Linked DNA regions of Homo sapiens. The protein of the gene in region 1 purifies or fractionates together with the protein of each later gene. This does not show direct contact. Each region holds a gene or a part of one and is shown on either strand. Other genes may lie near its edges.

Region 1 (3,500 bases):
GCACAGTGAAACCCTATCTCTACTAAAAAAATACAAAAAATTAGCCAGGCATGGTGGCACGTGCCTGTAATCCCAGCTACTCAGGAGGCTGAGGCAGGAGAATTGCTTGAACCTGGGAGGCAGAGGTTGCAGTGAGCCGAGATCATGCCACTGCACTCCAGCCTGGGCAACGGGGCGAGACTCCATCTCAAACAAACAAACAAACAATGCATGTGTTATATATATTTTTTGAGACAGACTCTCGCTCTGTTGCCCAAGCTGCAGTACAGTGGTGTCATCATGGCTCACTGCAGCTTCAACCTCCTGGGCTCAAGCAATATCCTTGCCTCAGCCTCCTGAGTAGCTGGGACTACAGGCGCATGCTACCACAGATGGCTAATTTTTAAAATTTTATAGAGATGGGTTTTCACCATGTTGCCTAGGCTGGTCTAAAAATCCCTGGCTCAAGTGATCCTCCCATCTTGGCCTTCCAAAGTATTGGGATTACAGGTGTGAGCCACTGTACCCAGCTCAAAATTCCTATGTGGAAGCCCTAACTCCTAGTACCTCAGAATTTGACTATATGTGGAGACAGGACATGTAAAGAGGTGATTAAGTTAAAATGAGCCCATTAGGCTGGGCACAGTGGCTCACGCCTGTAATCCCAGCACTTTGTGAGGCCAAGGAGGGCAGATCACTTGAGCCCAGGGGTTCGAGACCAGCCTGGACAACGTGGTGAAATCTGGACTCTACAAAAAATACAAAAATTAGCTGGACGTTGTGGCACGCACCTGTAGTCCCAGATACTTGGGAGGCTGAGGTGGGAGGATTGCTTCAGCCTGGGAGGTGGAGGTTGAAGTGAGCCGATATCATGCCACTGTACTCCATCCTGGGCGACAGAGTGAGACTCTGTCTCAAAAAAAAAAAAAAAAAAAAAAAAAAGGGCCTTTTAGGGTGAGCCCTAATCCAACACAAGGGGTACATGTGTACAGAGGGAGGACCATGTGAAGAGCTGAGGAAGAAGACAGCCTTATAAGCCAAGGAGAGAGACCTCAGAAGAAATAACCCTGCTGACACTCCGCTCTCAGACTTCCAGCCTCCAGAACTGTGAGAAAATTAACTTCTGTCGTTGAAGTCACCCAGTCTGTGGTATTGTGTTATGGCAGCCTGAGCCGATGAATGAAGACCCTCAAGTACTTACCTTAGCCTCAGCTTCTTCCTCAGCCTTTTTCTTGGCCAGAAGCTCCTCCAGGGATAATGGCTGGGCCTGAAGATAAAACAGAACTTTAGTCTATAAAGGCTCTCTCCCTTTAAAGATCAACAAAGCAACGCACGAGTTGAAGATGAAAAATATCCTTCCTCTCCTTTACCTTAGGCTTCTTATCACCATGTTCATCCTCTTCATCCTTCTTAGAGTCTCTGTCCTTCCGAGATTTAAAGTCTTTTCCTCGACCAGGAGATAAGCTTTGAGGAAAAGGAACAAGGTCCACATCACTCTTACTTCAGTGCCTGGATGAGGTTCAAGTTGAGCCCCGAAAAGAGAATGGAAGTTTCCCCATGACTCAACAAGACTGGCCCATGGTCATCTATCATGTCTTGAAACTCTCTTAGCAGGCATGGTCATTCTGCCAGCTCTGAAACCTAATTATGGCCCTGTCTTGGCCCCTTTCTACCCAAATCTCCTTTTGAGACTAATCTCTTTTGGGAAGTGGGACTTTACTACTGATGTCAAAAATATTTCCCCTAGGCCAGGCGCGGTGTCTCATGCCTATAATCCCAGCACTTTGGGAGGCTAAGACAGGTGGGTTACCTGAGGTCAGGAGTTCAAGACCAGCCTGGCCAACATGGCAAAACCCTGTCTCTAGTAAAAACACAAAAATTAGCCAGGTGTGGTTGTTTAGAGAAAAATTTTTTTTTTTTTTTTTTTTGAGACACAGTCTCACTCTGTCGCCCAGGCTGGAGTGCAATGGTGTGATCTCAGCTCACTGCAACCTCCGCCTCCTGGGTTCAAGAAATTTTCCTGCCTCAGCCTCCTGAGTAGCTGGGACTACAGGCGAGTACTGCCACCACTGGCTAATTTTTATATTTTTAGTAGAGACGAGGTTTCATCATGTTGGCCAGGCTGGTCTCGAACTCTTGACCTCAGGTGATACATCCACCTCGGCCACCCAAAGTGCTAGGATTACAGGTGTGAGCCACAGCGCCTGGCCCTCCTTAACTCTTTAATATACAATGAATTTAGCCTACATGGCCACCACCACAAGCCAAGAAGATACTGCTATCTATATTCCCTCATCATTTTTCATTCCTATCAATCCCAACAATCCTTTCCCCATACCTGCTCTAAGCTTAATCTACAAGATAATTCAAACAACCCCACTGAGTTTCTGTTAGGAGCATTCTGTCCTCTGCCTTGAATTCTAACCTATACTTTCAGGGCCTGATAAGAACTCTGTATACAGGCCAGGCACAATGGCTCACGCCTGTAATCCCAGCACTTTGAGAGGCCGAGGTGGCCGGATCACCTAAGGTCAAGAGTTCGAGACCAGCCTGGCCAACATGGAGAAACCCTGTCTCTACTAAAAATACAAAAATTAGCCAGGCATGGTGGCGCATGCCTGTATTCCCAGCTACTTGGGAGGCTGAGGCAGGAAAATTGCCTGAACCCAAGAGGCAGAGGTTGCAGTGAGCCGAGATCGTGCCATTGCACTCCAGCCTGGGCAACAGAACAAAAACTCCATCTCAAAAAAACCCCCAAAGATTCAGAGAAGAATCCATAGATAGAAAAGCTTCAGGCTCCCTCTCCCCTCTCCCCTCTCCCCACGGTCTCCCTCTCCCTCTCTTTCCATGGTCTCCCTCTGATGCTGAGCCAAAGCTGGACCGTACTGCTGCCATCTCGGCTCACTGCAACCTCCCTGCCTGATTCTCGTGCCTCAGCCTGCCGAGTGCCTGCGATTGCAGGCGTGCGCCGCCACGCCTGACTGGTTTTCGTATTTTTTTGGTGGAGACGGGGTTTCGCTGTGTTGGCCGGGCTGGTCTCCAGCTCCTGACCGCGAGTGATCCGCCAGCCTCGGCCTCCCGAGGTGCCGGGATGGCACACGGAGTCGCGTTCACTCAGTGCTCAATGGTGCCCAGGCTGGAGTGCAGTGGCGTGATCTTGGCTCGCTACAACCTCCACCTCCCAGCTGCCTGCCTTGGCCCCCCAAAGTGCCGAGATTGCAGCCTCTGCCCGGCCGCCATCCCATCTAGGAAGTGAGGAGCGTCTCTGCCAGGCCGCCCATCGTCTGAGATGTGGGGAGCGCCTCTGCCCTGCCGCCCCGTCTGGGATGTGAGGAGCGTCTCTGCCCGGCCGCCCCGTCTGAGAAGTGAGGAGACCCTCTGCCTGACAACCGCCCCGTCTGAGAAGTGAGGAGCCCCTCCGCCCGGCAGCCACATCGTCTGAGAAGTGAGGAGCCCCTCCGCCTGGCAGCCACCCCGTCTGGGAAGTGAGGAGCGTCTCCGCCCGGCAGCCACCCCGTCCG
Region 2 (3,500 bases), on another chromosome or scaffold:
AGTTCAGGCTTTGGAGCCAGACAGAGTGCATCTCAGCTCTGCCCCTTCCCCGTGCGGCTGGGCATCACTCACGTGACCTTTCTGAGCCTGAATTCCATCACCTAAAACATCGGCGACATCTATTTAGAGGTGTTGAAAGAATTAGAATCCATGAGTGAAAAGTGCCTCATACATGGTGGATTCTCAAGTGTTCATGAAACTGGTCTGTGGTGAAATCAGAGGATGTTCACGTTCTCGTGGCACGTGAGCTTTATGTGGTAGTTTGCCTCTGTTAGAATTCTCCGGGTTAGATGCAGTGGGCCGGAGCTTGAAGGCAAAAGGAGAGTCACATTTGTATCTTTAAAGTTACAGTTACTCAGTTGCCCTCTGATTATTGTTGTTGTTGTTAGTTTGAGAAGGAGTCTCGCTTTGTCCTTCAGGCTGGAGTGCAGTGGCACGGTCTCAGCTCACTGCAATCTCCACATCCTGGGTTCAGGTGATTCTCCTGCCTCAGCCTCCCAAGTAGCTGGGATTACAGGCGTGCACCGCCACACCCAGCTAATTTTTGTGTTTTTAGTAGAGACAGGGTTGCACCACGTTGGCCAGGTTGGTCTCGAACTCCTGACCTCAAGTGATCCGCCCGCCTCAGCCTCCCAAAGTGCTGGGATTACAGGCGTGAGCCACCTCACCTGGCCCTGCACTCTGTTTATTAAATGCCTACAAATTATTAAAAACCACAGATGCTTATAATATTTACTATTTTTTACGTGCAAGAAAAGGGATGGTAAAAATTTGTTGTGACCTTTCTTTTTTCTTAAGTACACAATTTACAACCCTGTCCAAATGATATTTCAAGTAATTTATTATTTGCATGGTGATTCCGTAAGTTAATATGATGTTACTGGTATTTATTGTATCTGTCCCTGAGCAAGGCATTGAAGGGAGAATAATGAAATATTATTTTGACTTTCCTAATGCCTGTGACCATTTATTTTGTTGGTGTATTTATTTTAGCTTCTGTAGGGAAGTATTTTGTGTTTAAGTCAAATCAAAAGACAGTTTATTAGTTTACCATGAAAATAAAGCTGGATTCTGGCAACCTGACCAACACATTCTCACTGTGGACGCTGCGGGAAACTAGAGTTTCAGAAATGGGCGTTGTCAGAGTGACCGGACTCAGAGGGGCCCATGTCTAATGCAAACATCACTTTGGGGTTTTGAAAGCACATGGACGGGGAGTCGCATGCCCCTGCAGTGGGCCGTGTGCTCACTTTGGGGTTTTGAAAGCACATGGATGGCGAGTTGCATGCTCCTGCAGTGGGCCGTGTGCTCACCTTGGGGTTTTGAAAGCACATGGATGGCGAGGCGCACGCTCCTGCAGTGGGCCCTGTGCTGGAGTTCTGATACGGTTTTTTTCACCAAAGCTGAAGGGCAGTGGAGTCTTTGTGAAGTGTGGGCTTTCCCCCTCCCCCTCTCCCCACCCTGCTCCATGGTTTACATTTCCATCTTAATTTTTAAAAAATATTTCCCAAAGTAGAGAATATAGTGAACCCGTCTGTTCCTATTGTTCCACTTCAACAATTGCTGGTATTTTGCTGGTCTTGTGTTACCTAACCCCTCATTTTTTTAGGCTGTGTGTTTCATGGAAATCCCAGATATAATTATTTCACCTGTAAGTTACAGTCAGGTTGTAAAGATTTAGTTTTATATGAAGAAATGTTGTGCATATCCCATTGATTTCCCGTGACTGCTGTGAGAGGATGCTGCAAGCTGAGGGGCTTAAAACAACAGAAACTTCTCTCACAATTCTGGATACCAGAAGTCCAGAATCGAGGTGTTTTCCAGGCTGGGCTCTCTCTGAAACCTGCCAAGGAGAGTCCTCATGCTTCTCCCAGCTTCTGGTGCTGCCAGCAGCCTCTTGGAGCTCCTAGGCTTGTAGACGCCTCTGCAGTCCTCGATGCCCCCAGAGCCTCCTGTCCCTGTGTCTTTATGTGGCCATTTTCCTCTAAGGACACCAGTCACACCAGATTAGGGGCCCACCTACTCCAGTATGACCTCATCTTACCTTAACTGATTACGCCTGCAGTACCGTTTCCAAATAAGCTGCGCTGTCACTTTGGGGGTTTAGGACTTCAACTGTTTTGGGGACACAGTTTAACTCATAACACATGTAAGTGGCTACAAGCTTCTAAAGGGCATTGAGTTAGTATTTATAAAGAGCCTTTAAAATGTCATATCCTTTGTTCCAGAATTTTAGGAATTTGTCTTTAGGAAATAATGAAGTATGTATACAAATTTAAGGGGGAAAATGTTCACAGATGAATAATATTAATGAACAATCAGAGAGTAACAGAAGAATGGTGTAGGAGGCTCTTCTCGCATTGCTATAAAGAAATACATGAGACCGGGTAACTTATGAGAAAAGAAGTTTAATTGGCTCACAGTTCTGCAGGCTGTACAGGAAGTGTGGTACTGGCATTTGCTTCTGGGGAGGCCTCAGGACCTTCCAATCATGGCAGAAGGCAAAGGGGAACAGGCACGTCGCACGGTGAAAGCTGGGGCGGAGTGTCACACACTTGGAACAACCTCAGCTCACTACCCCGAGGACAGCACCAAGAGGATGACGCTCAACCATTGATGAGAAATTCATCCCATGATCCAGTCGCCTCCCACCAGGCCTCACCTGCAACGCTGGGAGTTACGTTTCAACCTGAGATTTGGGCAGGGACAAATATCCAAACTATATCAAATGGTAAAGTAATGGCATAGCCATTTGATGAATCACGCAGCCATAGAAGTTTGCCATTTTTGGAAAGTAGGTAATGTATGTAAAAGAATGCTCTTAATTGGCCGGCGCTGTGGCTCACGCCTGTAATCCCAGCACTTTGGGAGGCCGAGGTGGGTGGATCACCTGAGGTCAGGAGTTCGAGATCAGCCTGGCCAATATGGTGAAACCTCGTCTCTACTAAAAATACAAAAATTAGCCAGACGTGGTGGCACACACCTGTAATCCCAGCTACACGAGAGTTTGAGGCTGGAGAATAGCTTGAACCTGGGAGGTGGAGGTTGCAGTGAGCCAAGATCATGCAACTGCACTCCAGACCAGGCGACAGATCGAGACTCCGTCTCAAAAAAAAGAAAAAAAAAAGAATGCTCAAAATTAAAGCAGCATACAAAATATTGTAGTACGATCACAATATGACCATATTTTGCTATGTCTGAACAGAAATAATATGAACAAATTAAAAAATATATATCTATAAGAAAGGGGAAAGAATATAGTAAAAATATTGCCAGGCGTGGTGGCTCATGCCTGTAATCGCAGCACTTTGGGAGGCCAAGGCAGGCGTATCACTTGAGTCCAGGAGTTCAAGACTAGCCTGGGCAACATGGCAAAACCCTGTCTCTACAAAAAATACAAAAATTAGCCAGGTGTGATGGTACGTGCCTGTAGTCCCGGCTGCTTGGGAGGCGGAGATGGGAGGATCGCTTGAGCCCAGGAGGCAGAGGTTGCAGTGAGC

Evidence for each region. Proteins that work in one complex are often made in the same cells at the same time.
Region 2: the proteins of DDX23 (region 1) and TXNL4A purify together in Homo sapiens (affinity purification with mass spectrometry; 3 studies listed by BioGRID and IntAct, with this or other methods). This does not show direct contact.

What each region holds. Positions count from the first base shown.
Region 1 is NC_000012.12:48,838,664-48,842,163, forward strand, and holds part of DDX23 (probable ATP-dependent RNA helicase DDX23), read right to left. Parts: intron 1,444-3,500; coding exon 1,350-1,443; intron 1,247-1,349; coding exon 1,181-1,246; intron 1-1,180. UniProt on the Homo sapiens protein: Involved in pre-mRNA splicing and its phosphorylated form (by SRPK2) is required for spliceosomal B complex formation.
Region 2 is NC_000018.10:79,978,564-79,982,063, reverse strand, and holds part of TXNL4A (thioredoxin-like protein 4A), read left to right. Parts: intron 1-3,500. UniProt on the Homo sapiens protein: Plays a role in pre-mRNA splicing as component of the U5 snRNP and U4/U6-U5 tri-snRNP complexes that are involved in spliceosome assembly, and as component of the precatalytic spliceosome (spliceosome B complex).